5 separate regions of the Homo sapiens genome follow, and regions 1, 2, 3 and 5 are each linked to region 4. The links come from fine-mapping of genetic effects on gene expression. A gene starts in region 4. Each other region holds a variant in brackets. All regions are shown on one strand. Distances are from middle to middle.

Region 1 (5,822 bases), 550 kb before region 4:
GGAGTGCTTCACCTCCACCTGCATTTATCCCTACAGATGCCACATGAGTCAGTTGTGGAGCAAGAACAGGCCAATCTAGACCCTGCCTCCTGCCTCCTCTCCTGCAACCAGAGGGTGAGTGGCTGTGGCCGACGAACTCTGTGGCTTGGGGTCCCATGGGCTAGAGTAGTGGTTCCCAGTGGGGTTGTATCAACCCCAGGACGCATGAGGCAATTGGTGGGGGGGCTTGTGGGCTTGTTTTTGTCTGCAAGCATAGTCATTCCTCATTATTTATGTAAAAATGCGTATTATTTTATTGTAAAATGCTTTTCTCTTTATTTCTCCTTTGTTAGAGTATTATCTTGATACTTTAAATTATAGAGATGATAATTGTATCGATGAATTTCAATTCAGGATGGAAAAGTAGAAGCTAAATATTTGTTTTTAAAATGGGATATTGGAGCCAGGTGTGGTGTTTCACACCTGTAATCCCAGCACTTTGGGAGGCTGAGGCAAGTGGATCACCTGAGGGCAGGAGGTCGAGACCAGCCTGGCCAACATGGTGAAAACCCGTCTCTATTAAAAATACAAAAATTAGCTGGGCATGGTGGTGGAAGCCTCTAGTCCCAGCTACCCGGGAGGCTGAGGCAGGAGAATCACTTGAACCCAGGAGGCGGAGGTTGCGGTGAGCTGAGATTGCACCACTGCACTCCAACCTGGGCAACAGGGAAAGACTGTCTCAAAAAAAAAAAAAAAAAAAAAGCGACAGTTGGATCCAAAAGGGCGACAGGTTCTGCTCAGCAGTGCTTTGTGCACTGTTGGGCCCTGCACCCCTACGGACTGCTGTTGGCCAATCCATACACATTATTCCCTCCAGGGGAAGTTGCAGGATGTGCCCTCTTCCACATTGAGGCTTCCTCCCCAGACAGGCTTTGTTAACATTAATGACTAGTGGCTCTAGCTTCAGATCCCTTTGACACTTTGTGAGGCTTGACCCGCGTCTGAGCTGAGACAGGAGTGGATGCCTGGATTCCTCGTTGGGTTCTGCACCCCCAAAACCCTGCATAAATGTTCCTCTTTCTCCCTTGGCTTTCTGGGGGCTCACTTTAAAAGATGTGTATCCCATAGGTCCCCTTTAGCTGGGTTGTACCAGGCACAGTGTTTGTTCTTTCAACCAGTATTTACTGAGCACCTCCTGTGTGCCGGGCAGTTTAGAAAATAAAGTGTAAGTTACTTCATTCCTGCCTAGGAGAAGCTCAAAATTCAAGTGCATTCACAGGCTTTAATCAGTGGTTGGCAACTGTTTTTCTATCCTAGCCCAGCAGAGAGATGGACACACTCCTGTCAGTAACAGAGGCTTGCTGGGGAAGCCTGTGGTTTGATCCCTCTATATCCTCACCCCATCAGGATCCAGCCTAGGGCATTTTGACACATTATCTACCCCTGGTTGGGCGTCACTGTGTGAGCTTGGGAAGAAAATATCCATAGTCACTTTCTGTGTTTCTTATAAGGGTTAGGGCAAAGAGAGAAACGAGGATCAGGAAAGTTACATCGAGGCTGACGGAATCCTGGACATGGGCTGGCATCACGGGCCATCTTCTACTTGAGATATTTTTCAGATAACACAAGTATGGAAAAAGGAAAAAGCAACTGTATTGAAATCTCCTAAATGCAGCAGATTTGGAGCCTGCAAACACTTCTTTTAGGGAGGAGGCAGTATTGCTCTTAACCTAGAAGGCATCCTCAATGGTCTTTGAGACGTTTGGAAACGTGTGCACAAGTGAAATTATTTTACCTACTTCTCTTGAACGCATGATGTCTCATATCCAATTTTATTTCTAAACATTTCTTTTAAAAAATAGTTATTTCTGTGCACTTCTGATTCTGTTACTAGTAAGAACAGTAAAACCTGATTGGCTATATATTGCCTCACTAACTGCTCTTTCATTCTGGGTCACTACGAAAGATGTTAAATGAGATAGCCCAAATGTCTTTGAGTTTGTGTATACACATTAAAACACATAAAAAGTCATACTCATGATTTTAAAACTTGACTCTCGAATGTGTTAGAAGCTTCTCTGTGGTATTAAAGTGCTGAAGCATCATTGCTCTGATGTCACTGATTTCAGTTTACTCCTACAGTTTACTTTTTGTCTGTTAGTGGTATCATCTGGCATTCTGTGGAGACCTAGGTTGAATCTGCATGTTTGAAATGACAAAGTAAACCCTTGAAGGAACAGGTCTGAGGACACACTTCATTAGCTTCATTTTCTGTGGATAAACAATGGCAACACTTAGATACCTGAGGATAAATAAGGGACAACGGGCCATGGAATCAGAGAGTTTACTTTTTTTTTTTTTTTTTTTTTTTGAGACAGAGTCTCATTCTGTCACCCAGGCTGCAGTGCAGTGGCACGATCTCGGCTCCACCTCCTGGGTTCAAGCAATTCTTCTGCCTCAACCTCCGAGTAGTTGGGATTACAGGCATACTCCACCACACCTGGCTAATTTTTGTATTTTTAGTAGAGACAGGGTTTCACCATGTTGGCCAGGCTGGTCTCAAATTCCTGACCTCAAGTGATCCGCCTGCCTCGGCCTCTTAACGTGTAGGGATTACAGGCGAGAGCCACCGAGCCTGGCATTTTTTTTTTTAAAACATCTTCTTTGCATTTCAGAAGCTTCCAGGTTTGACACTGCCAAGGCCTTTTCTTCCTTTCCCTGGTTTGACTTTCAGGTCCCAGAGCCTGCAGGGGCAGGTTCTCCAGTAAATCCCAGGTCTCACTGGCCTGTGTCTTTACAGGGGCAGGTTCTCCAGTAAATCCCAGGTCTCACTGGCCTGTGTCTTTACAGGGGCAGGTTCTCCAGTAAATCCCAGGTCTCACTGGCCTGTGTCTTTACAGGGGCAGGTTCTCCAGTAAATCCCAGGTCTCACTGGCCTGTGTCTTTAAACGCTTGATTCTTAGTCAAGAGCTAAAGGATAGTATTTATCAGAAAAACTGCTCAGACCCTAGAGCCCATACTTTTC[C/T]GGAAAGGTCCTGAAATATAGTGTGGTAGCTAACACTACAAAAGTCAAATCTCAGAATTCCTACCCAGGGTAGAGAGGATACAGAAAAGGACTGAGGGATAAACAATCTGGCAGAAATGCTTTAGGGGATCCTAGCGAGGGAAAGGAGAGAGGTGGCCAAAGGGCCTTTCTTGTGCTTTTCCTATGTCTGGCCCATTCCCTGCCTCTTCTCCCTGTTACCTCCGCTCTCCCCTCAGCGAAGATCCCTGACTAGACCAGTTTCTCTTTAGTCCCTCGCTCATAGGCCTCTATTTCTCAGGACTTGGAGTCTTGCATTTGTGGTTCCTAGATTAACACGTGTCCTCACTAGACTCTCAGCTCCAAAAGGTAATGTCCTTTTGGCTCACCGTTGTGTCTCTGGCATCTACGTACCTGTGTATTTTATTGAAAGACACATGTCACCCAGTTTATTATTACTCTTGTAGAACTGCAGGGAAAGGGCAGGACAAAGAATATGAGAAAAAAGAAAGTGGAGAAAGGATATAGGGCTTTGGATTAGAATGCTACCTCCTACCCAGACACATTCATGAGAAAACTCATATCCTTAGACAAACTCCTAATTCTGTATCTGTCCTACCTCATGGGTAGGAGGTAGGACAGATACTTCTATTTGGGTAGTTTTTTTTTTTTTTTAAACTTAATGTCACCTCTACACTCCTGTTTTATCTATACCTTAGGGACAGAAGCACACCATTGCTTCCAAGACTGTGTGCAGACACTGACATTCATCTCCCATTTCTGGAAGAATTTTTAGCTGGGCATGTGGCCATCTGATACACATTTCCCTGCTTCTTTAGATGGGGTGGGAGGGGGGGACATGGGACCAAGTTCTGGCCCCTAAATTCTGGACAGAAGTAATGGTCCAACTTCCAATCCGTGACCTCAGGAGGGGCATACCTTCCCGTTCCTCTCTTCCCCCTTCCAGCTGGCTGGAGAGTGAAGTTGGGTGGGAGCCTTCTTTGGCCACATGGACGAGGCTGCCTCCAAGGGATGGTGGAGTCACAAGACAGACATAGGCTGGGCTTGGCAGTAGATTAGCATTGGGCTGTCACTTGGATGGCTGATGTGAGAGAGATGCATTTCCATTTGGGACTAGTGACAGCAGCTGAACTGACATCCTCATTCTGGCATCGTCTTGAGCAGTCAGGAAATGAAGAGAACAGAAGCAGCATCTCTGTGGTAGTGAACTAGTGGTAAAAATGTGATCATTTATTTGTAGAATAAATGACAGTACTTTGGCTGTCACAGTGATTCCTGCTTGGTAAACTGGGAACAGTTCAATAATTTATCTTGCTCAGATGTGTTTCCTTATCATCACCTTAGTCCTCATTTCCTTACTTTAAATAGAGATAGGAGTTAAAAGTTCTGAACCTGGAGCCAGACAGCCCTGACTTTGAAATTGCAGGACTGACATTTATTAACTACTCTATTTCCATAACCATGTCATAAAGCTATTATAAGGATATAGTGAGATAACGGACATGGAGCTTGGCCAGAGTAAGCACTAAATAAGTGTTTTCTATGCTATTATATATATGTGTGTGTGTGTGTGTGTGTGTGTGTGTGTGTACATTAGTCAGGATTTTTTCTTTAGCAACTGAAGGAAACCTAATGAAACTGGTTTGAGAAAAAACAGAATTTATTGGTTCATATAACTAAAAAGTCCAGGGTTAGCCCAGCTCCAGGCATAGCATTAACCAGGGAGTCAAATCAATGTCATTGGACATAGCTTGCTCTCTCCAACTCTCAAGTTTATTCCATGTTGGTACTATTCTCTGGCAGGTTTTGTCCATGAGGTTATAAGATGGCTGTTCCCAAACTCCAGATTTCTATCTTTATCTTTTCAGCAACTCTACCAGGAAGCATCTTTCTAATGAAAGTCTGGGAAATGATGCCTCACTGGTTGTGACACTATCCCATCCTCCAATCAATGCCACTGGCCAGGGAGATGCCAAGTTTGGCTTTGCCAGGACTGGGTCACATGCGCATACTGGGGTTGAGTCCATTCTTCTTAACCATGTAGATTGTCAGCAGGAAATGGGTGGTAGTAGGGAAATTGGGGTGCTTTTTTTGTGAGACAGAGTCTTGCTCCGTCGCCTAGGCTGGAATGCAGTGGTGTGATCTCAGTTCACTGCACCCTTTGTTTCCCGGGTTCAAGTGATCCTCCTGCCTCAGCCTCCCAAGTAGCTGGGACTACAGGCACACTCTACCACATCTGGCTAATTTTTGTATTTTTAGTAGAGACAGGGTTTCACTACGTTGGCCAGGCTGGTCTTGAACTCTTGGCCTCAAGTGATCTGCTCACCTCGGCCTCCCAAAGTGCTGGGATTATAGGCGTGAGCCACCGCACCCAGTCTGGGGTGCTTTTATTGGAAAAGGGAGTACATGCCAGGGAGGCAAGAACATTTTTTTTTTTTTTTTTTTTTTTGAGACTGAGTCTTGCTCTGTCACCCAGGCTGGGATGCAGTGGCATGATCTTGGCTCACTGCAACCTCTGCCTCCCAGGTTCAAGCAGTTCTCCTGCCTCAGCCTCCTGAGTAGCTGGGATTACAGGTGCGTACCCCCACGCCTGGATAACGCCTGTATTTTTAGTAGAGACAGGGTTTTGCCATGTTGGCCAGGCTGGTCTCAAACTCCCGACATCAAATGATCCACCCGCCTCGACTTCCCAAAGTGCTGGGATTACAGGCATGAGCCACCATGCCCAGCCTCAGGAACAGTATTTTATAGTATGTAAAAGACTCAGCCGAGTGCCTGGCATAGTGAGCACTAACAAATG
Region 2 (5,822 bases), 86 kb before region 4:
ATTGATTGATCGGCATGTGGGTTGGTTCCATGCTTTTGTGATTGCAAATTGTGCTGCTATAAGCATAAGCATGTGTATGCAAGTATATTTTTCTTATAATGACTTATTTTCCTCTGGGTAGATACCCAGTAGTGGGATTGCTGGATCAAATGGCAGTTCTACTTTTAGTTCTTTAAGGAATCTCCACACTGTTTTCCATAGTGATTGTATGAGTTTATATTCCCACCAGCAGTGTAGAAGCGTTCCCTATTGACCTCATCCATGCCAACGTCTATTTTTTGATTTTTTGATTATGGACATTCTTGCAGGAGTCAGGTGTTATTGCAGTGTGGTTTTGATTTGCATTTCCCTCATCATTAGTGATGTTGAGCATTTTTTCATATATTTGTTGGCCATTTGTATATCTTCTTTTGAGAATTGTCTATTCATGTCCTTAGCCCACTTCTTGATGGGATTATTTGTTTTTTTCTTGTTGATTTGTTTGAGTTCATTGTAGATTCTGGATATTAGTCCTTTGTCAGATGTATAGATTGTGGAGATTTTTTCCCACTCTGTGGGTTTTCTATTTACTCTGCTGACTGTTCCTTTTGTCATGCAAAAGCTCTTCAGTTTAATTAAGTCCTGGCAATTTATCTTTGTTTTTATTGCATTTGCTTTTGGTTCTTGGTCATGAAATCCTTACCTAAGCCAATGTCTAGAAGGGTTTTTCCAATGTTATCTTCTAGAATTTTTATAGTTCCTGGTCTTAGATTTAAGTCCTTAATACATCTCGAGTTGTTTTTTGTGTAAGGTGAGAGATGAGGATCCAGTGTCATTCTCCTTCTTGTGGTTAGCCAATTATCCCAACACCATTTGTTGAAAAAGTGTGTCCTCCTTGTGGCTAGCCAATTATCCCAACACCATTTTTTGAAAAGTGTGTCCTTTCCCCACTTTATGTTTTTGTTTGCTTTGTTGAAGATCAGTTGGCTGTAAATTGTACACTTTAAATGAGTGAATTGGGCGGTATGTGAATTCTATTTCAAAACAGCTGTTATTATTATTATTTTTTTGAGACAGGATCTCACACTGTTGCCCAGCCTGGAGTGTGAGGTACAATCATGAATCACTGAAGCCTCAGCCTCCCAGGCTCAAGTGATCTTCCCACTTCAGCCTCCCAAGTAACTGGGACCACAGGCGTGTATCACTACACCCAGCTAATTTTTACTTATTTTTATTTTTTATGGAGATGTGGTCTCACCATGTTGCCCAGGCAGACCACAAGGCTGGTCTCCAACTCTTGAGCTCAAGCAATCCTCCCACCTCGGCCTCCCAAAGTGCTGGGATTATAGGCATGAGCCACTGCACCCAGCCTGTTACTGTTTTTAATGGCCTTTATGATCTTACTGTGAAAATCAAGGATGAATGCAAGATGTCTTATCCAGCCAGAAAACTTGTGCTGGGAAAATTAAATTTTAGGCATTGTGTTTACTATAAGATTTAAATAAACTTATTTGTACATTTACCAAGATAAAGCTCCAAGTAAACCTTTTCATTATTTACTATGAAAGTATGTTCTCATTTTAGTTAGATTTAGTTACTTCTATTTTGGGTTGGGTGAACTTTAATTTTTGGCATGAAGAAACTTCCCTTTTCAGAGGCTGGAACTTCTCTGGCTACCAAGCCTCTGAACCTCTCCACGGGGCAGCCTAGTTTCCAGATGCATAAGGAAGATGGTTCTTTGGTTTCTGGCACTGATTGACATTCTGTCACCATCACCCAAAGACCTTGTGATGGGCATGGGGTTAACCCTCCCATTAACCCTGACCCAGCTGTGTTAGATAGTGAGGGTGTTTAAGTGAATTCTAATGTTATATATCTGTTTATCAGGGATTGTTTTCTTTTTTTTCTTTTAGACGGCATCTTGCTCTGTTGCCCAGGCTGGTGTGCAGTGTCACAATATCAGCTCACTGGAATTTCCGCCTCCTGGGTTCAAGTGATTCTCCTGCCTTAGCCTCCTGAGTAGCTGGGACTACAGGCATGTGCCACCCTGCCTAATTTTTGTATTTTTAGTAGAGACAGCGTTTCGCCATGATGGCCAGGCTGGCTTCGAACTCCTGGCCTCAAGTGATCCACTTGCCTTGGCCTCCCAAAGCAGTAGGATTACAGGCTGAGTACTGCGCCCAGGCCCCTGGAATGTTTTCATATTATGATGTCTTCTGCTTACCAGTTCAACTTCCTAATTGTATCACTTGAATAATGAATGTTTAAATAACTGGAATACCCCACACTTGATTGTAATGTTGTCGGGGAAGCAGAAGAGTCAGGTTTAGATTGGATTGAGTGACATCTGAGAGTCTTAGTGCTGGACTGGGAGGTTCTGAGTCGGCTGGGGGTCACCCAGGCCTGTTCACACTAGGTCATAGGTCACCACTCAGTCTCCTTGTCATCCAGGCTGCTAGGTGGGGGAAGGGAGAGGCTGAGGACCACCTCCTGAACTACCCCAGCTGCTGCCATTACTAGAGCCCACCTAGCTTCCTGTTCTCAGCTCATCCTTACAGGTTTCTTGGCTCCAGATCTAGGAGTGGAGGCTAGAGCCAGAGCTGGGAGGTGGGGAAGGGACAAGGAGGTACAGGAGGACCACAGGACAGGTGAGGGAGACAATCCCACGTGCCTTGCATTGGAGAAAACAACGCTAGGGGCCTCACAGGGATGCACCTGCCACCTGAGGTGAGATAAACTCGGAACATGGCTGTGCTTTACCTGAGAAAGCGCAGGACCCCAGACCTGGAGACCTTGCATGAATACCTTCCTCTCGGGGTTCTCCTGGTCCCAGGCCAGGCTAAGTCAGTCTGGCTGTGACTCTGTCTCTTCCCTGAGTAAGGGCCTGGGTCCAGCTCCTCCGGGCCCCACCATTCAAGGCGCTGAGCTCGGGGAACTCTTGCCACAACTGACCTGCAAGAACACTTGACCCAGAGCTCCTGCATGTCTATCTCAAGTGAGAATCTGAGGACACCGATGAACTCTTCTTGGCTTCCTGGGAGCCCTATGCCCCAAGCACAGTCCCCAGAGGAAGGCCAGAGACCACCAGCTGGAGACAAGCTAGCTAATGGCGTCAGGAACAACAAGGTAGCCTGGAACTTGGCCTCACGCCTCTATCGCCTGGAGGGCTTCCGGAAGTCTGAAGTGGCTGCCTACCTGCAGAAGAAGTAAGGGGCTTTGAGCCTGGGGAAGGCTGGAGGCTGAGGCAGCCAGGGAGGAGCTGCTGAAGGGCTCCCTCCACTGGCCACCCTCCCCTTCCCGTCCCTGCCCTGTTCCCTTCCCA[T/C]CTCCCCTCCTAACTTTTCCCCCATACCCTCACTGTATCTGCTGCTTACTCTCAGTCATGGTCCTCATGCTCTCCACACCCTTGGTCCTTGGTCCCCACTGCCTTGCCAACCAGACTCCACAGGTCTCTCCCAGTGTCTCCCAGTGTACACTGAATAGGGTAGCAGGGCATACCAGACCCTGGCTGCCCCCTTGCTCTGTCAGGACCCAAGGCCCAGCGTGCCTGCACCCTTCCCTTGCTCACCCCCACCGCATAATGTGTGCAGGCCCTGGGGGCCCCAGTGCATCTGCAGCCCCAGCCCAGGCCCCTGGTGCAGACTCCATGCCCCTTTTCCCTCTGCAGCAATGACTTTAGCAGGGCTGTGGCTGAGGAGTACCTGTCCTTCTTCCAGTTTGGAGGCCAGAGTCTGGACCGAGCCCTCCGGTAATGTCTTTGGGCCCTCTCTGGGGAGGCTGTGGAGGATGGCATGGGGCAGTGGCACCAGCCTGAGGCTGGGATCTGATTGGCCCTAAGCTCCCGGGCTCTCTCCTTGACCCTGGCCCTCCTTTGCAGGAGCTTCCTCCAGGCCTTGGTGCTCAGTGGGGAGACTCAGGAACGGGAGCGAATCCTCTACCAGTTCTCCAGACGCTTCCACCATTGCAATCCGGGGATCTTCCCCTCAGTAGGTAGGGAGGGGCTGGCCCTGACAGCAAAGCAGGGAAACTTTGGGGTGCCCATGTCTGCTTGGGAGTTCAGTAGGTGACAGTGAACTGGTGGGAGTGTGTTGGGGGCTGTGGAGAATGGAAGCATTCCAGGGGTTATTCGGTTACCCCACGCAGTGTGGGCAGAGGAAACAGGAGCCCTGGTTCCAATGAGCTTTCTCTCCACTTACCTATCTCTGGGGTAGATTCTGTACACACCTTGACATGTGCAATCATGCTGCTTAACACGGACCTGCATGGACAGGTAAGACGGTGGAGAGAGTCCCTGTGGGAACTGAGGCTGTAACAAGGGGTGCGGGGAGGAGAAGACCAGAGGCCTGAGACCGGGCAGGGAACACCCCTGAGGGATGTGGGCCTGGGGAGCTGGAAAGGGTTCCATGGTTGCTGGCTGGGAGGTTATTCTATTGGGATGGGGTGTGTGCTCGAGTCATCCCACTTCTCCGTGGCTACAGAACATTGGGAAGAGCATGAGCTGCCAGGAATTCATAACCAACCTGAATGGGCTGAGGGATGGCGGGAACTTCCCCAAGGAGCTGCTGAAGGTATGTGCCACGGGGTCTTCTTATGAGCCTCATGTAGGACCTGGAGCCTTGGTTCTTTGTTCCAAGGGAGATGCTGAGCTTGGGACTGGCTTTGCCAAAATATCCTTGAGAGAACAGGACTTGTTTATTGAAGGGCTAGTAAAAGTGTATTCCCTGGCGGGCAGCATCAGAAGCATCTTGGAATTTGTTATCCATGCAAATCTGCAGGCTCCCTGTGCTGGACTTATTGAATCAGACTCTCTGAGACTGGGACCCCTAAAATATTTTCTTAAGTTTTCAAGTCATTCTTACCCCTTCAAAGTCTGAGAAGGGCAAAGCTACACATGGTGAAAGTCTGGAGCTCAGACTTGGGAGCCTGGTGTTCCTGGGTTTGAATTCTAGTCTTGGGCAATTTGCCCCCTCTTGGCCAACTCAAGTTCTTCCTGAGAGTATTAACCACTTACCATGCCATTATCAAGATGAAATGAAATCTTCCAAGTGCTCAGCACGGTGCTTGGCACATAGCATGTGTGTCATAAGCAATTAAAATCATTTGCTGTTTCATCACAGTCACGCATCACTTAACGATGAAGGTGTGTTCTGAGAAATGCATCGTTGGGCATTTTCACTATTGTGTGAACATTATAGAGTGAACCTACACAAACCTAGATGTACAGCTCACTGCACACCAGGGCTATATGGGATAGTCTATTGCTCCTGGGCTACAAACCTGTATGGCATGCTGCTGTACTTAATACTGCAAGCAATTCTAACACAGTGCTGTATTTGTATATCTAAACATAGAAAAGGTACAATAAACACATGATAGAAAAGATTAAAAATGATACATCTGTATAGGACAGCTCCATCACAACCTTACAGGACCACTATCATGTATGCAGTTCATCCTTGACTGAACCATCATGATGCTGTTATATGGTACATGGCTGTACTTCATGAACATTTACTGAACACCTACTATGTGCCAGACTTTTTGCTAGGCACCGCAAGAGCTATAGAAGCAAGCGAGATAACATCTACGTTAATATGTCAAACTTTTAGTGCATCATTCATTCATTTACTGCACATTTATTGTGGGGATTGGTCAGCCAGTTTCTTCTCCATCAGATCCCTCCCAGTAGAATGCCATGTAGGTAATTCATTTCTCCTCCATGAGAACTAGTTAAGGCCTCAGTAAGCATGGGCAGGACAGGGACTTGTCTGCCCTGGTCATCATCTTTTTTTTTTTTTTGAGATGGAGTCTCATCCTGCACTGTCGCGGGAGTGCAGTGGTGTGAT
Region 3 (5,822 bases), 470 kb before region 4:
GTCACTATAGATTAGTTTACATTTTGTGGGTTTTTTTTTTTTTTGAGACAAGGTCTCACTCTGTTGCCCAGGATGGAGTGCAGTGGTGCGATCATAGCTCATTGCAGCCTTGAACTCCTAGTTTCAAGTGGTCCTCCCACTTCAGCCTCCTGAGTACCTGGGACTACAGGGGTACACCACCACAACTGGCTTAAAAAATTTTTTAAATAAAAATGGGGTCTTGTTATGTTTCTCAGGCTGGTCTCGAACTCCTCGCCTCAAGCAGCCCTCCCTCCTTGGCCTCCCAAATTGTTGGGATTACAGGCATGAGTCATGACTCCTGGCCTAGTTTACATTTTCTAGAGTTTTGTATAAATGGAAACATACAGAATGTATTTTTTTGCGGAGTGGGGGAGTGTTTCTATTTCTTTCTTTCTTTTTTCTTTTTTTTTTTTTTTTGAGACGGAGTCTCGCTCTGTCTGTTGCCCAGGCTGGAGTGCAGTGGTGCGATCTCGGCTCACCGCAAGCTCCACCTCCCGGGTTCAAGCAATTCTCCTGCCTCAGCCTCCTGAGTAGCTGGGACTACAGGCGCCCGCCACCACACCTGGCTAATTTTTTTTGTATTTTTGGTAGAGACGGGGTTTCACCATGTTAGCCAGGATGGTCTCGATCTCCTGACCTCGTGATCTGCCCGCTTCGGCCTCCCTAAGTGCTGGGATTACAGGCGTGAGCCACCGTGCCCGGCCCAAGTGTTTCTATTTCTTAACCAGCTTTCATGCAATCTTTTTTTATTTTACCATCTCTGTGATCCCACTCCCAAAGGTACTAGATGTCGATTGGTCCTTAGGATCAGCTACCATTTGCCCAACTGCTTTCCAGCCTTCCAAAAATTTTTTTCTTTTTTTCTTAAAGATACTCCTGTGTGAGGCTCAGAACTCTTGAATTGCTACTGCAAATATGAACTCGGTGATGTGAATGCCAGGGAATTGCCTGATTGATCAAAGAAATGTATCCCCTTCTCCCTCACTCTTGCTGTCTTCTCATTTGTTTTCCCCATCCTTGTGGATTCGTGAATTTAAATATCCCTTTAATGTTATAATATTTTAATGGCGTTTGGCGAAAAGTACAGAATTAGGTGCAAGAGTGCATAGCTGTTATTTTTTTTTTTGGCCTCTGAGACTGTTCATATATGCAAGTTATTTAACAGAAAGTTCTGCAGTGACCTGAGATGTCAGGGGGGTCTGATAGAGTACGTTTGAAGGCAGTTACTGGAAAAAAATAATGCCATTTCTGGTTTGTACTTCGGTAAGTTCAGATGACCCAATATATTGTTTACATGTGGCATTCAGTAAAAAAGTAGCTTCCCCTCCCTTTCTTCTTCCTTTTCTCCTTTCCTGCTTCTATAAAGCATCTGCTTTGGGAAACTTCTTAGGAGGAGAGCTTGCCAGCCCGTGGGTAATGGAGAGGTCTTGCAGAGATAAAAGAGATGCTCCCACTCAATGCAGGATGGTGTGGAGGTAAATGGGGATATGTCTGGCATCACTCAGGAATGGGCCTTCCTGGCAGGGAAGAGAAGGGAGGGGAAAGAGGAAGGGAGTCAAAGATGAATTGCTGAATACGGGGATTCCAGGGCCTGGAGCCAGGAAGAGAACTTTGGGAGGTGTGAACCTGGAGGGCATCAGCTGATGAGGAGCAGCCTGAAGTCCGGGGAGGACCTGTTTTTGGTGGCCAGGAAGAAAGTGCCTTCCACACACAGGGAGGCCACAAGGCTGATGGGCTGGGGGTTGGAAGGACAGCCCTAGGACAGGCTTGGGAAGCAGGCTCAGGTAGGGACTGTGAGGTTCTTGTTGAGTCTTTTTCATTCCTGGTCTTAGAAAATAGAATCCAAGGCCTCTTGAGAGTGGAAGGTGGGTTGGGAGGAGGGCAGATGGGGCTTAGGCCCAGGACACCCGTAGAGCTACTGCCCAGCTGTCTCTCAGGGACTCTGCTGAGGTCACTCCAAGGATCATTCTTAGCCTTGCTAGACAGTACTGACAGAGGGAACCGTAGTATCGCACCCACTTCCTTCTCTTTCAATGAAAGTTTAAAGGTCACCATTTCCTCTGGCAAAGGAAGTTCCACAAATATTCCATTTCCGGTCTTAGAAACAGCAAGGTATCAAGCAATTGCAAACTTCCTGTGCTGGGGAATTCCCAAGGAAGTAGGGGCAGAGTTCTGGTGGAGACAAAGTGAATTCCGAGTGATTAGTCAGTAGCAGTAGCAGTAGCAGTAGCAGTAGCAGTAGCAGTAGCAGTAGCAGCAGCAGAACCAGAATTTCCCCGCACGTGTCTCAGGCTCTCATTTGCCAACTCAGTCTCTAAGTATTTTTATTGGCAGGAAAAATAAAATAGCTATGAGTGAAATAATTCATTAGACCTGAGCCTCCATCAATTTTGTGTTTAAAGGCCTGACTCTCTTTACCTTTCCCTGGGATGGAAGATGCAAATGTTCCTGATGTCACTGTCAAAAAAGAAGAACCAGTGGGTATATTGTATGCTTGAGTTCCAGCCATTTGTCACAATAGATAGAGATGACTGCCATGTGTGTAGACTTTCTATAGACTGTGTGCTAAACCCGACCTGCCACTTCCAAGGAGTAGATGAGGAATGTCCATGGTTCTGGGGAGCCCTACCCCAATTTGGGGCAGACATTCCAAAGCTCATTTTCTGTGGAGGGGGTTGATGGTTAAAGGACGGCCTGGGAGTAACTCGTCTGTACTAGGGCCCAGGAGAGTTACATGCTGCTTCCCATGTTATTCATCATTCCCCCATGTGAATAGCTATGGCGTGAGGTCCAAGGTTAGGGCCTTTCTACCATAAATGGGGGAATAAAATTCCCCTACCAGCCTGAGAAGTTTCTGTTATAAAGAGGCCTTTTTTTTTGCGGGGGTGGGGGAGCAAGCCGACTAATGTGTTATTTCCATACGGTTTGTTTTAAAATGTAGACGTCATATGCAGGAGAGGTGGTGTAGTGAGTCACAACGGGATTAGAAGGACCAGTCCGAAAAGCAGAAGAGGGTCAAGTTCAGGGCACGGAGGACTACTGCATTCAGTGGCGTGAAAGGCAGATGGCTGAACAGGAGGGGGACATTACATTGCTTGTTCTCCTTGAGCCTCGATTTCCTCATCTAAAAAGAGGGTCATTTATTCACAGAACATTTATTAAACTTGTGCCAGGCACCGTGCCAGGAGCTGGACTAAAAATTAAATCCACCCCTGTGAGCTGCTCTGAAGGCTAAAATATGAAGTATGTAAAAGTAACCAAGTGCTGTACACATGCAGCTATTCAATGACTGTGTGGGCATTGCGGCAGATTTTAATTTTCTTTTTTATTTCTTTCTCTTTAGTGAGAGGTGTTGGTTGTTATTATTGTCGTCGCTGTAACTGTCTATTTCACTTGCTTTTTTGTTGCCTCCAGCCCATTCCAGGGCTGTCATCTAGGACACTTCTTATCACCTAAATAACCGGGGAGGCAAAGCGCTTTCTTAAGAGATGGATCCAGAAGAACAATGCTGGTTTTCTGTACAAAAAGGGGCTGTGGGAAGTAGAGATAAGAAGGGAATTGGCCAAGATGAATGTACAGAGCCTT[A/AT]TTTTTTTTATAACACAGCAAGATTAGATACAAAACAGGACAATAGCATCATCTGTTTTTATAACTGGAAAGGACCTCACTTTACAGGTGGGGAAGAATAGAGTGGAGAAGTGAAGAGAATGGTCACAGAGTCAATCAGCATGTCTGCGTCAAAGCTGGGATTCCCGATTCAGGGCTCTTACTACAGTGACGTATGGCTAATATTTTGGCATTGTTTCGGGGAAAAGCTGAAGCCCTGATGGTGTACGTCACTCTTGAGATAGTCTGTAGTCCAGCAGGGAGGAAAGCAAGGAAGGGAGGTGGAGGCAGCATTTTTGGGTGTAACATTTCGTTCTTGTTTTGTGGCCAAATCATAGTGTGATTGGGACAAGCCACTGCCTTTCTCTGAGCCTCCACTTTCTTTTTCTTCTTAAGAGGGAGGGAATAGTAGAGTAAAAGTAGTCATTTTATCAAACACCTGCTATTTTGGAGCCATATTGCAAGTGGGTTGGGGGTTGAACAGTTGGCTTTATTACCCATAGGATTAAATCCAACCTCGATACTGTGGCATTCCCAAACTCCAGTCTAATCTTCTTCTCCATCAGCCATGCCCCACGACACCCTGGTCATATCTGATGTTGCCCCTTGCACTTGCCCCCTCCTTATCTTTGCTTTCTGACCTACCATATGGCTATTGGTTGAAATTCTCATTTTCCAGGGCCTTGCTTAAATATCATCTCATCCATTAAAACTTTCTTGAACCTCCCCTTGCCCTGTTCCTCCCTAATGTCTCAAGCCAGAATTTATTTCCTTTTGTGGCCAAGGGACTGGGTTTGTGACCTCTCTCACGAGACTTAATATTGAGACCAAACGTCTTTAGACCTCACCAGCCAGAGAGATGAGCATCTATGGAATGCAGGCTTTTGCCTGGACTTGCTGATGCAGGGCCTCTGCCTTCCTCCAGGGCCTCTCCTGCTGTTTTAGGAATTTCCCTCATGGCACAGTCCATGAGCTCAGGGTCAAGTTCATACATGTTTTTACTTCTTCTACTCTGCAAATGGTCTTCTTGAACTCTGAGGGTCCTAAAGCTGCTCTGCAGTTTGTGGGGTGAGTAGAAAGGGGCTTTCAAAAGTTGTGCTGTTGTTTCCCACCCCAATAGCATGAAACACAAAGATGCTTACAAATAGCTGCCTTGCTTTCTAGTCCCAACTTCTCTCTCCTGAGGCTTTAAAACAAGTCCCCTAGGTTGAGCTGGACTGGAGTTGTATCCTATCTTCATTATCTGTCTACTCTCTTTCTGCTCTCTAGAGAAGATATTATATATGTGTGTATGTATGTGTAAATATATAATATCCATATATAGAACATATATTGTTATATTTACATATACATACATAACATATGCATGTATTCATATATACATATGTAGTATCAAAGTTGGAATTAAACTGTATATTTTGTAATTTGCTTTTATTTGCATCTATCACTGTAAAATGAATATTTATCCATACCGTAAGATATTCTTCAATGTATTTTTTTTTTTTTTGAGACAGGGTCTTGCTTTGTTGCCCAGGCTGGAGTGCAATGACCCGATCTTGGGTCACTGCAGCCTTGACCTCCCCGGCTCAAGTGATCTTCCCACCTTAGCCCTCTGAGTAGCTGGGACTAGAGGTGTGTGCCTCCACACCCAGCTTTTTAATTTTTTTTGTATTTTTTTTTTAGAGACAGGGTTTTGCCACATTGCCCAAGCTGGTCTTGAGCTCCTGGGTCCAAGCAATCCTCCCACTTTGGCCTCCCAAAGTGCTAAGATTACAAGCATGAGCCACCACACCTGGCCTCAATGTAATTTTTAATGGCTGTATAGTATTCCATCATGTGGTTGTACCCAAAATTATTTAACCAGTCCCCAGTTTATTTCAATTTTTTTTTACTATTTTGAATAATGTTTTAGTAAATACCCACAAAATATGTACAATGGCTGGGCTTAGTGGCTCACCCCTGTAATCCCAACACTTTGGGAGTCTGAGGCAGGTGGGTCACCTGAGGTCAGGAGTTCGAGACCATCTTGGTTAACATGGTGAAACCCCGTCTCTACCAAAAATACAAAAATTAGCCGGGTGTGGTGGCACACACCTGTAATCGCAGCTACTTGGGAGGCTGAAGTAGGAAAATCACTTGAACCTAGGAGGCGGAGGTTGCAGTGAGCCGAGATCACACTACTGTACTCCAGCATGGGC
Region 4 (5,822 bases):
CTTTCCAAATGCATTTATTCCACTTTCCTCAATTCTAAAACCAAGAGTTAGGAATGGGGCTTTAGATCTCACATCAGGGAAGTTAGAGACATCGTCCTCTGCCTTGTCTTATTTTACCACTTGAATGAACTATTTTCGGGACTGGTGGGAGTGGGCTGCGACAAGTTATTTAAGATAACTTTTAATGACAGCCAGCCTGCTTGCTTTTACAAAACTCTCTTCCTCATTGGTACAGTATTGTTTTCACTTTTATATATATGGGGCATTTATCGTTTCTTCTGCATCTTTGAATTTTTTTAAAAATGTTTTTGCTTTAGAGAATTTCGTCCCTGATGCAACAAAAATAGCGATTTTAAGGAACGTTCAGCCCATCGCTGACCTGCGCACGTTAAAATGATTCGCGTTCAACATTCCTGCAGAATAAAGCTGTAGGAAAGACAACGTTAAGACTCTCTGCAAGGCAAGACCAGCCAACGACGAGGCGACCCCGTGGCAGGCTGGGCGGCGGAGGCCGCGCGGGGAGGTTTTCTCGAGCGTCCCCGGTTATTGGGAAGGGTGCGCTCGGCCTCGCTCCCGCGGAAAGCCGTGTGGCCGCCTGCGTCCCGGGCTCTGCTCACAGAAAACTCAAGGGGAGCTCCCTAAGCACGGCCGGTCTCAGGAACAGAGGTGCCTGGGGAAAAGGGGGAACCTGCTAAAACCCGAGAGATAATGGGCTTGTAAAAACCAGAGGGGTCCGCTTATGAGTTTAGCTCCGGTTATAGACAACAGTGTCAGGTAAGCTGATCAGAAAGACAGACGGCCTCTCCCTCAGGTTTGCCGAGGGAGGGTTCAGAAAAGAAACAGGGAGCGCCTTCAGCAGTCTATGCGGTTATAGGCCATTTTCTTGTTTTATTAGCGTTTAAATTAAACTATGAGAAGAAAGTCTCATCTTCCCTCCCTCGCCACTTTGTCTATTTGTTTTGGAAAGAGGGTAGAAGAAGCCCCTCTGTCTTCCCGAAAAGAAGAAAGGGGAAAAAAATTACCTGGTAGGTCCAGGGGCAGAGGGCTCCCTCCCAAAACCCAAGCGCGATTTGCATCCAAGCTAGTGGGAAAGCGCGCATCTCATCATCTGGGACTGTTCCTGATTAAAACTACAGTAAAAATAAATTGTGCCTTTATTTATTCTTTCCATACTCTATTTCCATCTATTCTAACGAGTACTTCTAGAATGAAAATAAGTAGCCGCGAAAAAAAAAAAAAGCTCATCTGAGGGACGGGGACATCGTCTCATTTCTTGGGCAGCGGCAGAGAGTAAGGGTCCAGCCCGGCCACAGTGAATTTGATTTCCGAGAGCACTCACTCCTCCTGCCACCGCCGGAAGGGTCAGGGGAAGGTTAGGAGGAAAGATGGACCTCCAGAGCCGAGCAGAAGTGCCATTGCACCAGCTTGGCGCAGAAGTGCCATTGCACCAGCTTGGCATGGGCACCGGGCACTGCACATTAGGCCTCAGGGATGGTCCTGGCGATGTCTGGTATCGTACCACGGTTTGGCTAAAGATTAAGGGACTAAAACCTGATCCTGACCTTAGATAGTGGCCTAGGAGCGCTCGTGGTTCCAGGACGCGGACCGTAAAGAGGTGCCAGGGAGCTCTGCTCGGTCCCAGGGCTCCCCAACCCCGCCGCGCCGGGGAATGGCTGCGAGGTCTCTCCCCTGAGGACCTTGAAGGGACCCCGCGCCTTCTGGGGGCAGCCGGACGATTCTGGCCCAGGTCTCTGAGGGGAATGGGGGCCGGGAGGGAGCATTCGTCTGCAGCTCTAGAGAGAACCCGAGTGAGAAATCTTCCGGCGCCCCAGGGGGTTCCCGCTCCCCTCCTAGTTGGGCCATGGCCCTGGGACTGGAGACTGCGCCGCAGAGCCCGGGCCCCCGCAGTGCGCTTGGCTAAATAGAGATCTCAGCCTCGCTGCGCGCCCGATCCGACCCTCCTTATTATAACAAATGTCCCGTTTGCAGAGCGGGACATCATATTCGCGGAGAATTCATTCTGAAATATTGATTTCCTCTCACTTCGCCGGCCCAAATCGATAGCGATGCGCCCTGGCCCCATAAATCGCCTTCTCTGCGGCCGGCCGGGCTCCATCCATCACTGCGGGCCGCGCTGCGCCTCCACCGCTGTCCGCACTCGCTGCGCGCCGGGACGGCTGCGCCCACCAGCCCTGACCCTGGAGCTCCTTCCCAGCAAAGACCCTGCCCAGCCCTGGCCGGGAAGGGGGAAAACAGGCATCGCGGCCTGGGAGCTCGAGTGTGTTTGAAGGCCCTGCTTCCGGGCGCAGGTGGGGAGGGGGTTTTGACTCCGCGAGCGGCTTAGTCCTCACCAGCCGGACGCCCCGCGCGCGGCGCCCGGCCTGCCCGGTGCTGGGCCAGGAGGAGTCGGAGAGCACCTGAGTGCGCTGCCGGCTCCCGGGCCCGGGACCACCGGCTCCATTGCCGTTGGCTTGAGAGATGCGGGGAGCTCACAGTCCAGCCAGGGGAGTCACTGGGAAGGACTGCGCGCACCCGAGGAAGAGGACTTAGAGGTCGGGGACGGGGAAACGGCAAGTCCAGCACCGGTGCAGCCCAGGGACAGAGCACGAAGAATGTCCACACTAATGCGCCATGCAAGGCTGGGAATGGAGCTCAAAGGAAACCCCCTCTAACTCCACAGAGATCCCCTCACCGATCCATGTGGTCCCTCGAAACCGGGCAAGGGCGGCTCAGCTGGCCGGGTGGAACCCCAGTGCCCGAGAACAGCGAGGCGGCTCCAGCGGAGGGCCAGGCCCCAGGCGCCCCAGCTGGGTCCCCACGCGGGTGGGTCCCGCGAATCCCGTGCTGACGCTCTCGAGATCCAACCACCCGAGCGCACGCACGGACGCTCAGCGGCGCGGGGGCTCGGGGATCCTGACCACACCGCGTTCTTACCAGATCTGATGGAGTTGTGAGGCATCGCCGGGGAGTCGCTCGCAGCCCGCCGAGGGCTCGGGGCTTCCTCCCGTAGGTCCGGGCCGCGCCTGCCGCTGCCCTGCACAAACCCAGGAGAAGGGCATGAGATGCGATGAGATTCGATGCCTGCATCCTCAGGCCCCCTCCCCAGGCCTCATCCTTTACACCTGCATCGTCTGCCAGGAGTAGGAGGATTTTTAGGCGAAGTAGGGCCAACCTCAGCCTAGCCTAGCTAACAGGCTTCCCGGGAGGATCAAGGATTGGGAGTGCGCTGAAGAAGCTCCAGACTCCAACCTCCGTGCCCACTCCCTCCGCTGTCCCAGTCTTATCCCGTTTAACTTGGGAGGGAAAAGGCTGCCAGGCATCCTGGGACCCTCTCCTTTCTTCCATCCCCCGTCCTCACTGCTAGCCAGCTTCCAGCTAACCCCTGGGTGACATACCTGGCCGGCCGGCTGCAGGCCCTCACTGCTTGGGTCCGCCCGCGAGGGTGCCCTGGGCCCGGTGTCTCTCCTCCTTCTGAAGTTTGTTCCCATCCACCCGGCATCACCGACCGGTTTTATCCCGCTGAGGCCCTGGGAGATGGGTCTGGCGAGGCTCGTAGGCCGCGGATTGGCTGGCTGGGTGCAGGGGGGTGCGGGAAGGGGAGGATTTTGCAAGGGGGACATGGCTGAGTGGACTCAGGAGTTAGAAACATTCGCTGGGAGCTTCTGTTTCCAGCGGAGGGAAGAGGGAGGCAGCTGAGCCCTAACTCAGCAGGCCTGGAAATATTGGAGGAGTGGGGAACAGAGGCCTAGGAGCCTGAGGATGAGGTTCTCTGGGTCCTCCTGGGTCACTGACCACCAGAAGTGAGAGGGATGGTCTCTGTAGGATGCCCTCCTTGCCCCCTGTCTCCCCTGGTTTGCTCACCAGGAAGCAGCCTTTTCTTTTGTAAAAGGAAGGAGGGAACTTCTGTTTTATGCCTGATTCTTTAGGTAGAGCCTGCTTTCGGGGCTGTAGGCAAGATGCTATTACCTTCTCACCACAGCTATGACCTCTTCCAGGGAAGAATCCTGAGCAGCACCTGAAGCCATTCCCTCTGTTCTACACAGATAGCGTTCACACCCTTGCATTGTCAGGCTAACAAAATTGTCACATAACCCATTCCACAGCAACTCCTCGCCTCTCTCCTCTGGAACACACACGCAGCCACCTGCCCTCTTTCTTGCTCCTTGAGGATTTTGAACTTGGAAGAAGAGTTCAGGGGAAGGGCATTGAGGGCCTAGACTTCATCTCTGTGTGGAAAGGCCTTAGAAAGGAACAGGACTGAGCTGACCTCTGGCCTGGTCTGTAGGAATCAATAGCCTCAGCAATATGGGGGCCTGGGTGTGGTTAAGAAGGGGTCCACTGGTGGGAATGATGGCAGGGTTGGTGAGCCCTGGGACCGAGCAGAGCTGCCTGGCACCTCTTTACCTTAGTGATGGCAAAAGCTGCCCCCTCCTTCCTCATAGTTCTCTCAGTCGGGGAACCGGGGTACACGTAAGATTGTGAGTGGGTATGAGTGAGCAAATGTCCTGGAACACTGGCAGGCCTGGGGGTCAAGGCCTGGATGCTCCTCCAATCTTTGGCCAGACCTCTGGACTCAGGATTACAGTCTAGAGGACAGCCATGCCCTTTTCAGTGATGGCTCTGCAGGCCTGGTGGGGTTGTTCTGGGACAGGAGGCTAAGAAGCCAGTGGGAGGGGGGCAAGGAAGGTGCAGGGGAAACTGGGATATTCAGGGGGATTGGATGTGTGTGTGTGTGTGTGTGTGTGTGTGTGTATGCACATATGTACACGTGTGTGAAAACACATGAACTATTTTTCTGAATTAAAAAAGTTTTCTCTTTCATGTCAATCCACAACCTCCTTCCACCCAGTCTTTCTCATTTCTCAATTTAGGAGAAATGAATCATCTTGTGAAAAAAGAGAGAAGAAGATGTGTATCCCTACATGTTTCCTCCACATTTGCAAAGAGGGGCTGTAAACAAAAATAGTTGGTGCTTCATCATTTTAAATCTTTCTCTAAAATTGTAATTTTAAATATCTCTGTGGTTTTCAAAGCTCCAGATCCCTAACTTCTCTGGCAGTCCCTCCCAGAGAGAGACAATCCAAGGGTGTTGGGATGGAAATGGATCTTGGCATAGGTCCTCCGGACCCCATGGGCCAGTTTGCTGCCCTGGATTGTGTCCTGCTGCAGGGGAGGTGTGGAGTGTGGCAGCCACAGCAGAAACTCTCTTTGTCCACCCAGGATTCCCTCCCACCAGGGAGGCAATGCTCCAGGGTGAATCTAATACGCCCTCATTTCAAACAGCTCTGACAACCTTAGAGATTCTACCCAATCTAAGGTTCTGATACGTACCAATAACCATTGACTCTCATGCAATCATTCTTGCCTGTGCACATCTTTTCTGCCCAAGCAATGAACCCTCTCCCTTTCCTATCCCCTTTTTGGGCAAAATTTCTTAGAGGACAAATCCAGCAAGTTATCAGAACATTCCTGTCCCATGTATAAATTTATCTTTAAAATTTCATTTCAAGGTAAAAACAATGTGCACTGTTCAAGGTTACTCCTCAGGGAAAAACACACCCCACACCTTGACAGTACCTCTTCTCCAGACTGCAGGTGACATAGCAGGTGACCAGAAGACTCAGCAGAGAAGATCTAGGACGAGCAAGAAGTGAGAATGCAGTGAACTTCTGCTGCAGAGATAAACACAGGCCTCCTGGACTGACCCTGCTTCTAATTAGAATCAGAAATCAGGCCTGGGTTCCTTGGTACTTCCTAATTCTCTGAGACCAAGGCCAAGGAAATGTCATTAACTGGTGCTTTAACTCTGTCTCTTTGGCATC
Region 5 (5,822 bases), 42 kb before region 4:
AGGAGAATCACTTGAACCCAGGAGGTGGAGGTTGCAGTGAGCTGAGATCGCGCCACTGCACTCCAACCTGGGCAACAGAGTGAGATTCCATCTCAAAAAACAAAAAAACAAAAAAAAAAGGGTCCAGGGACTTTTATCACATGACCCTGTGGTTACTCTGGGCTTGTAGAGGTCTTAATCCTCTGGTGCAGTGGTTTCGAAGTCCAAGGGCTTTCTAGGGGCAGGGACCCCTTCTAAAAGAGCAGTTCTTCAGGGGTCTGGTGAGCATACATGTCTTCTGTAAAAGGCTTCATTTCAAGAGAGCATTGAGAGGCCCAAATTTGAAACCACTGGTCCAGATGGACTGTCTGACTCTGGGCTGCCTCTGTGACAGGTCTCACACACCCCACCCACGCACTGGTCTCTGCTCCAGCATTTCAAGGTCGTCGGGGTAGGAGGGTGTGGGAGGTGAAGAGGCATTTACTTCTGTCACTAAATACCCACACTCCTTGGAGACAGTGCCGCTATTAAAGAGATTCCTCCAATGCTGAACTGAGAGCTAGCTGGCTTCCTTCCCTGGTCCTGGGCCCCCACTGGGCCCACATCTAAAATAGTCCTATCCCTGTGGAAGCCCTTGAGGTATCTGAAGACCATATGGGTCTCTGCTTCCCACTTTCACTGCATCTCAGGCCCTCTCCAACCCAAGCCAAGCGCTTGACTCTCAGCCATTCCTCAGGCCCTGGCTGGATGAGCGAAGGTCCTTCTGCCAGGAGGAGCCAGCTCCCCTTGAGGTCTGACTCATGCAGTGCAGGCCCAGGCCTCAACCAGCTACAGATGGTGCTCCTGCCCAGAGACCTTGGCAGGGACCTTCTCCTCCCTGGGCCAGGTTCCTCATCAGCATAAGAGGTTTGATCTAGAGGCTCCCTCAGGTGCTTCCAGATTTACTTATTTTTATTTATTTGTTTTTTTCTTTTTTGAGATGGAGTCTTGCTCTGTCACCCAGGCTGGAGTGCCATGGCGCCACCTCAGCTCACTGCAACCTATGCCTCCTGGGTTCAAGCGATTCTCCTGCCTCGGCCTCCCCAGTAGCTGGGATTACAGGTGTCTGCCACCACACCCCCTAATTTTTTGAATTTTAGTAGAGATGGGGTTTCATCATCTTGGCCAGGCTGGTCTTGAACTCTTGACCTTGTGATCCACCTGCCTCGGCCTCCCAAACTGCTGGAATTACAGGGGTGAGCCACCTCGCCCGGTCGGTGCTTCCAGCTTTAAATATTTTGAGGCAGTTGAGGTTCCTGATGGGAGGTCCCCCACTCCTCTCAAGTTGTTGAATCACTGAATTTATCATGTTTAACAGATGTCTGACTGTCCTCCCGGTGATGCTGTTAAGCTAGGAATGAAGATAGCTGCATCATGGAAACACAACTGGGACTGACCCTTGGCCTTTTTAGAAATTTGATCCAGAAATGGGCTCCAAAAGCCAATTCCTTTTTCCCTCCAAAATGTTCATTTTTCCTTCTATCTATTTATGCATTTACCAAGGCCAAGTTGCTACGTTACAGCACCCGGCTCCCGGCCTTAGGGTTCCTGCTTTTCCATGGGGTCTTGGGGTGGTGCATCCCCGGCACCCCTACAGCATCCGCCCCTTCCGAGCATGTCTTCCCCGTCACAGAGAACTTCATGTTGGCGCCTCCAAAAGTTGCCGGAGGAATTAGGGAACAGGGTGGGGGTGGATGAGACTGAGGCCAGAGAGGGGGCTGGCGGTCTGCCCTGAGGACCCCCGTCCCACCCGCCGCCATAGCTGCATGGCCCCGGGACCTCCCTGTCGTACCTGAGAGGAGGGCCTGGCCCGTGAACTGCCCGTACACGGAGGCAGCATGGGGAAAGGCATTGAAGGGCGGGACCCCGGAGCCGACTTGCTGCAGATCCAAAAAGGCGGAGCTAGATAAAGAGGAAGGGGTGGAGCTAGAACTGGACACCTCGGGGGTTTCCTGCTTTATGGCGAAGGGTGAGTGAGGATCTGCCGGAGGGAGGGAGACAACAAGGAGAGAGGGGTGTGAGATGGCGGGGAGGGAACACGCACAAGCCAAGCCGTGGGATGTGGAGGGTGCGGGCGGGGCGCGGGGCAGGCTCAGCTGCCCTCAGAGTCTGGGCTGGGGAGAGCCGGGGCCCACGAGGCGTGGCAAGGCGGGGAGAGAGAAGCTAGACCTCCCTGCTGCGCTTCTGCAGCGAAAATGGAGAGACC[C/G]GGAAGGCGTGTGTGCGCCCGCCTCTCCCACAGGAGGGAGCGCGGAGACCCGGGAGCGGCCTAGGACCGGAGGCGCGACCCCTCGGCCCACCTTGAGGCCCGGCCTAGGACCGGAGGCGCGACCCCTGGGCCCACCTTGAGGCCCGGCCTAGGACTGGAGGCGCGACCCCTCGGCCCACCTTGCGGGAGCCGCCTAGGACCGGAGGCGCGACCCCTCGGCCCAGCTTGAGGCCCGGCCTAGGACCGGAGGCGCGACCCCTCGGCCCACCTTGCGGGAGCCGCCTAGGACCGGAGGCGCGACCCCTCGGCCCACCTTGAGGCCCGGCCTAGGACCGGAGGCGCGACCCCTGGGCCCACCTTGAGGCCCGGCCTAGGACTGGAGGCGCGACCCCTCGGCCCACCTTACGGGAGCCGCCTAGGGCCGGAGGCGCGACCCCTCGGCCCAGCTTGAGGCCCGGCCTAGGACCGGAGGCGCGACCCCTCGGCCCACCTTGAGGCCCGGCCTAGGACTGGAGGCGCGACCCCTCGGCCCACCTTGAGGCCCGGCCTAGGACCGGAGGCGCGACCCCTGGGCCCACCTTGAGGCCCGGCCTAGGACTGGAGGCGCGACCCCTCGGCCCACCTTGAGGCCCGGCCTAGGACCGGAGGCGCGACCCCTGGGCCCACCTGGCGGCCCGGCCGGCACAGCCCGCCTCTCCTCTCCAGGCCAGGGCCCCACACCTTCCGCCTGACAGCCAGCCAAGCTCTTCAGTCCCCCGCCCTCCACCTGCCAGGGAGGCTCCGGGCGTTGTACCTGCCACCACGGGGTAGGTCTGGTGAGTCGAGAGGTTGCGCCCCAGTGGCGTGTTGGAAGGGGTCAGGGTGGCCTTCCCGTCGTCCAGGGTGCTGTTGAGCAAGGGCAGCGGGTAGAGGCCCTGGGGAGCAAAGAGAAGTCAGCGCACAGAGACGATCCAACAAGCCGACCTTCCTGCAGACCCTGAGCCTGTGTCTTAGGACTTGGCAGCCCTCATCTCCCCAGGAGAGGTCCTCATCGCCCCCTTCTTCCTTTACGTTCTCAACTCCACTCGGCACGTTTCGTTCATGCTCATTGTCCTCCCGCATCCCTGGAATTCAAGGCCAGCTGGTAGCATGGGTGCCCAGACGTGGGATAGAGAGTCTCAGCCAGAGGACCACACCCTGGTTGGATGGCTGGTCGGCTTCCTGGTTTCACCACACTGTTGGGACCCACAGAATGCAGGACGGTGCCAAGGACTGGAGCAGTCTCCAACCGGACTGTTCAGGGTCCTTGCATCTGTTAATTTATTCTTCCCCAGATAGGAAACCCAGGCACAAAGGTTTAAGAAACTTGTCCCACTTCCAGATGGGCCAAAGATAGGATTCAGATTCGAGGGATCAGAATGTGTCTGCTCTCAACCACTGCCCTAAACTGGGTGACATAAGGACCACTTCTTACATTTGCAAAGAGCTTATATCAGAGCTTTGCCTCTGTTGTCCTAGTAGAGTCCCCCAGCAGCCCAGTGACATGGGTGAGTAATATTATGTCTGTGTTTTATATGTGGAGCCTGGAACTCAGGTAAATGGCCCAATTTTGTATAGTGAAACAGACTAAACCCGGGATTTTTCGGCTGTGGACCCAGGTGCTTTACCCACCACGTGGATTTCTTCTTTTCTCTCTCCACATCCAAACAAATAGAAGTGTGCAAGTTCGGCTTGAAAATGGTATTGAGAGTTGTTTTTGTTGGAAACACTCTTTGTCAAGTACCTGGGGGTCTTCATCAGTAAGACCTCATTTTAGATGCCTCCTGGCCTCCCCTTCCCAGGAGCACAGCTATGACCTTAGGTACTCCTTCCGAAAAGAACTTGTTTAACTAAAGGTAAGTGTACCTCATCCTCACCATGGCCTCCTTCCACTGGGGAAGCAGATAGCGCAGAAAAAAGAACACACCCATTCCCCACATACCTTCACACTCGTCACATACCTGCTACGTGAGATGTGCAAAGCTGAATTCAGGGAATGCTCAGTAGTTACATAACAGTGCCACTAAAGGCAATTGTTTTCAGTGATTTCCATCGAGCTGGGTTCTGCAAAGATCCACAGCACTTTCCGGTTGCATGCTGGGCACTTTTGGAAGCTGCAGTCAATTCTGGAGGCCACCAGGGCACCATTAGCACATAGCAGCAATTATTGACTAAATGGTGCTCTGGTTCCATGCCTTCCAAGGGGGCCCACTTAGAGGCAGGGTGGAGTTGCTTAGGGCCTTTTTTTTTTTTTTTTTTTGTAGACGGAGTTTTGCTCTTGTTGCCCAAGCTGGAGTGCAATGGTGCGATCTTCGCTTACTGCAACCTCTGCTTCCTGGGTTCAAGTGATTCCCCTGCCTCAGCCTCCCGAGTAGCAGGGATTACAGGTGCGTGCTACCATGCCAGGCTAATTTTTTGTATCTTTAGTAGAGACAGGAGTTTCACCATGTTGGCCAGGCTAGTCTTAAACTCCTGACCTCATGATCTGCCTGGCTTGACCTCCCAAAGTGTTGGGATTACAGGCATGAGCCGTTGCACCTGGCCAGGGTGTGTCTTATTGAAATTGAACAAAATACCTAATTTCTAGAGCGTATAAGAGAAGTTTAAAATGCTTTATGGATGTGTTGTTTTGACAGCAAAATATCTACTCAGAATCCTATAGCTATTTCAAAATCCAAGTAACTTAGAAAAAAAGGAAAAAGAAAACCTATATAGTCAAATCTTTTGGTGATTTTGTATTCAATGACTGAAACTTCCCAGTGATTATTGGGCTTTTTAGCTGGAATTGAACTTGAATCGGGGCAGAGCAGCACAATGCTTCAGAACTTCAGCGACTCTGAGCCCTGGTTCTGCAATGACCTGCCAAGTAGCTTTAGTCTACTTGACTGCTCTGAACCTTAATTTTCTCACCTGTATGGGAATCATAGACTCTACTTTATGAGGCTGACGTAAGCATTACATGAAATTTTGTATACTTATACATAATGTGCTTAGCACCGAATACTTGGTGACAGCAGATGCCCAATGAGAGTTATCACAGATATTATTTCAGAATCGTGAAGAGTCAGAAGCCACCAAATTCTTGATTTCTGTCAATAAACTGATATTCATATTCTGTTGATTTTTTTTGATGCATTTGTAAAATAGGGAAACAAGAGCTGTATGACTTCTAGCTATGTCTGGTCATGAAATAGCAACCAGGAATAAGGCCACATGATGTTTCTGATGAACACTTCCCCCTGCCCTTTTTTTTTTTTTTTCAGATGGAGCCTCGCTCTGTCACCCAGGCTGGAGTGCAGTGGCACAATCTCGGGTCACTGCAACCTCCGCCCCCCAGCTTCAAGCGATTCTCCTGTCTCAGCCTCCCGAGTAGCTAGGATTACAGGTGCACGCCACCAGGCCTGGCTAATTTTTATATTTTTAGTAGAGATGGGATTTTGCCTTGTTGGCCAGGCTGGTCTCAAACTCCTGACCTCAGGTGACCCATCCACCTTGGCCTCCCAAAGTGCTGGGACTACAGGTGTGAGCCACCATGCCTGGTCCCCCACTTGTTGATTTTGCAGAAAAGATAGCTGTGTTA

The links.
Region 1: its variant is fine-mapped to the expression of PAX8 in nucleus accumbens (GTEx, PIP 0.97).
Region 2: its variant is fine-mapped to the expression of PAX8 in whole blood (TOPMed, PIP 0.96).
Region 3: its variant is fine-mapped to the expression of PAX8 in testis (GTEx, PIP above 0.99).
Region 5: its variant is fine-mapped to the expression of PAX8 in whole blood (TOPMed, PIP above 0.99).

What each region holds. Positions count from the first base shown.
Region 1 is chr2:112,729,591-112,735,412 of GRCh38, forward strand. It overlaps NT5DC4 (5'-nucleotidase domain containing 4), which reads left to right. Exons shown (of 17, transcript NM_001393655.1): 16 at 37-114. Among named protein-coding and RNA genes, the nearest start is that of NT5DC4, 11 kb to the left of the region's middle. The variant C/T (reference allele first, on the strand shown) is at 3,005.
Region 2 is chr2:113,189,405-113,195,226 of GRCh38, forward strand. PSD4 (pleckstrin and Sec7 domain containing 4) reads left to right here. Exons shown (of 17, transcript NM_012455.3): 6 at 2,976-3,185; 7 at 3,644-3,724; 8 at 3,854-3,966; 9 at 4,188-4,246; 10 at 4,455-4,544. Among named protein-coding and RNA genes, the nearest start is that of PSD4, 18 kb to the left of the region's middle. The variant T/C (reference allele first, on the strand shown) is at 3,302.
Region 3 is chr2:112,809,953-112,815,774 of GRCh38, forward strand. No RefSeq gene overlaps it. Among named protein-coding and RNA genes, the nearest start is that of IL1B, 24 kb to the right of the region's middle. RefSeq lists an enhancer at 1,661-2,860. The variant A/AT (reference allele first, on the strand shown) is at 3,607.
Region 4 is chr2:113,275,436-113,281,257 of GRCh38, forward strand. It overlaps PAX8 (paired box 8), which reads right to left and starts at 3,486. Exons shown (of 12, transcript NM_003466.4): 1 at 3,396-3,486; 2 at 2,935-3,034. The coding sequence starts at 2,959. RefSeq lists a promoter at 2,959-4,088.
Region 5 is chr2:113,233,584-113,239,405 of GRCh38, forward strand. It overlaps PAX8 (paired box 8), which reads right to left. Exons shown (of 12, transcript NM_003466.4): 8 at 3,018-3,138; 9 at 1,811-1,999. It overlaps PAX8-AS1 (PAX8 antisense RNA 1), which reads left to right and starts at 2,686. Exons shown (of 6, transcript NR_015377.2): 1 at 2,686-3,039. RefSeq lists an enhancer at 1,583-1,772 and a silencer at 2,023-2,102. The variant C/G (reference allele first, on the strand shown) is at 2,225.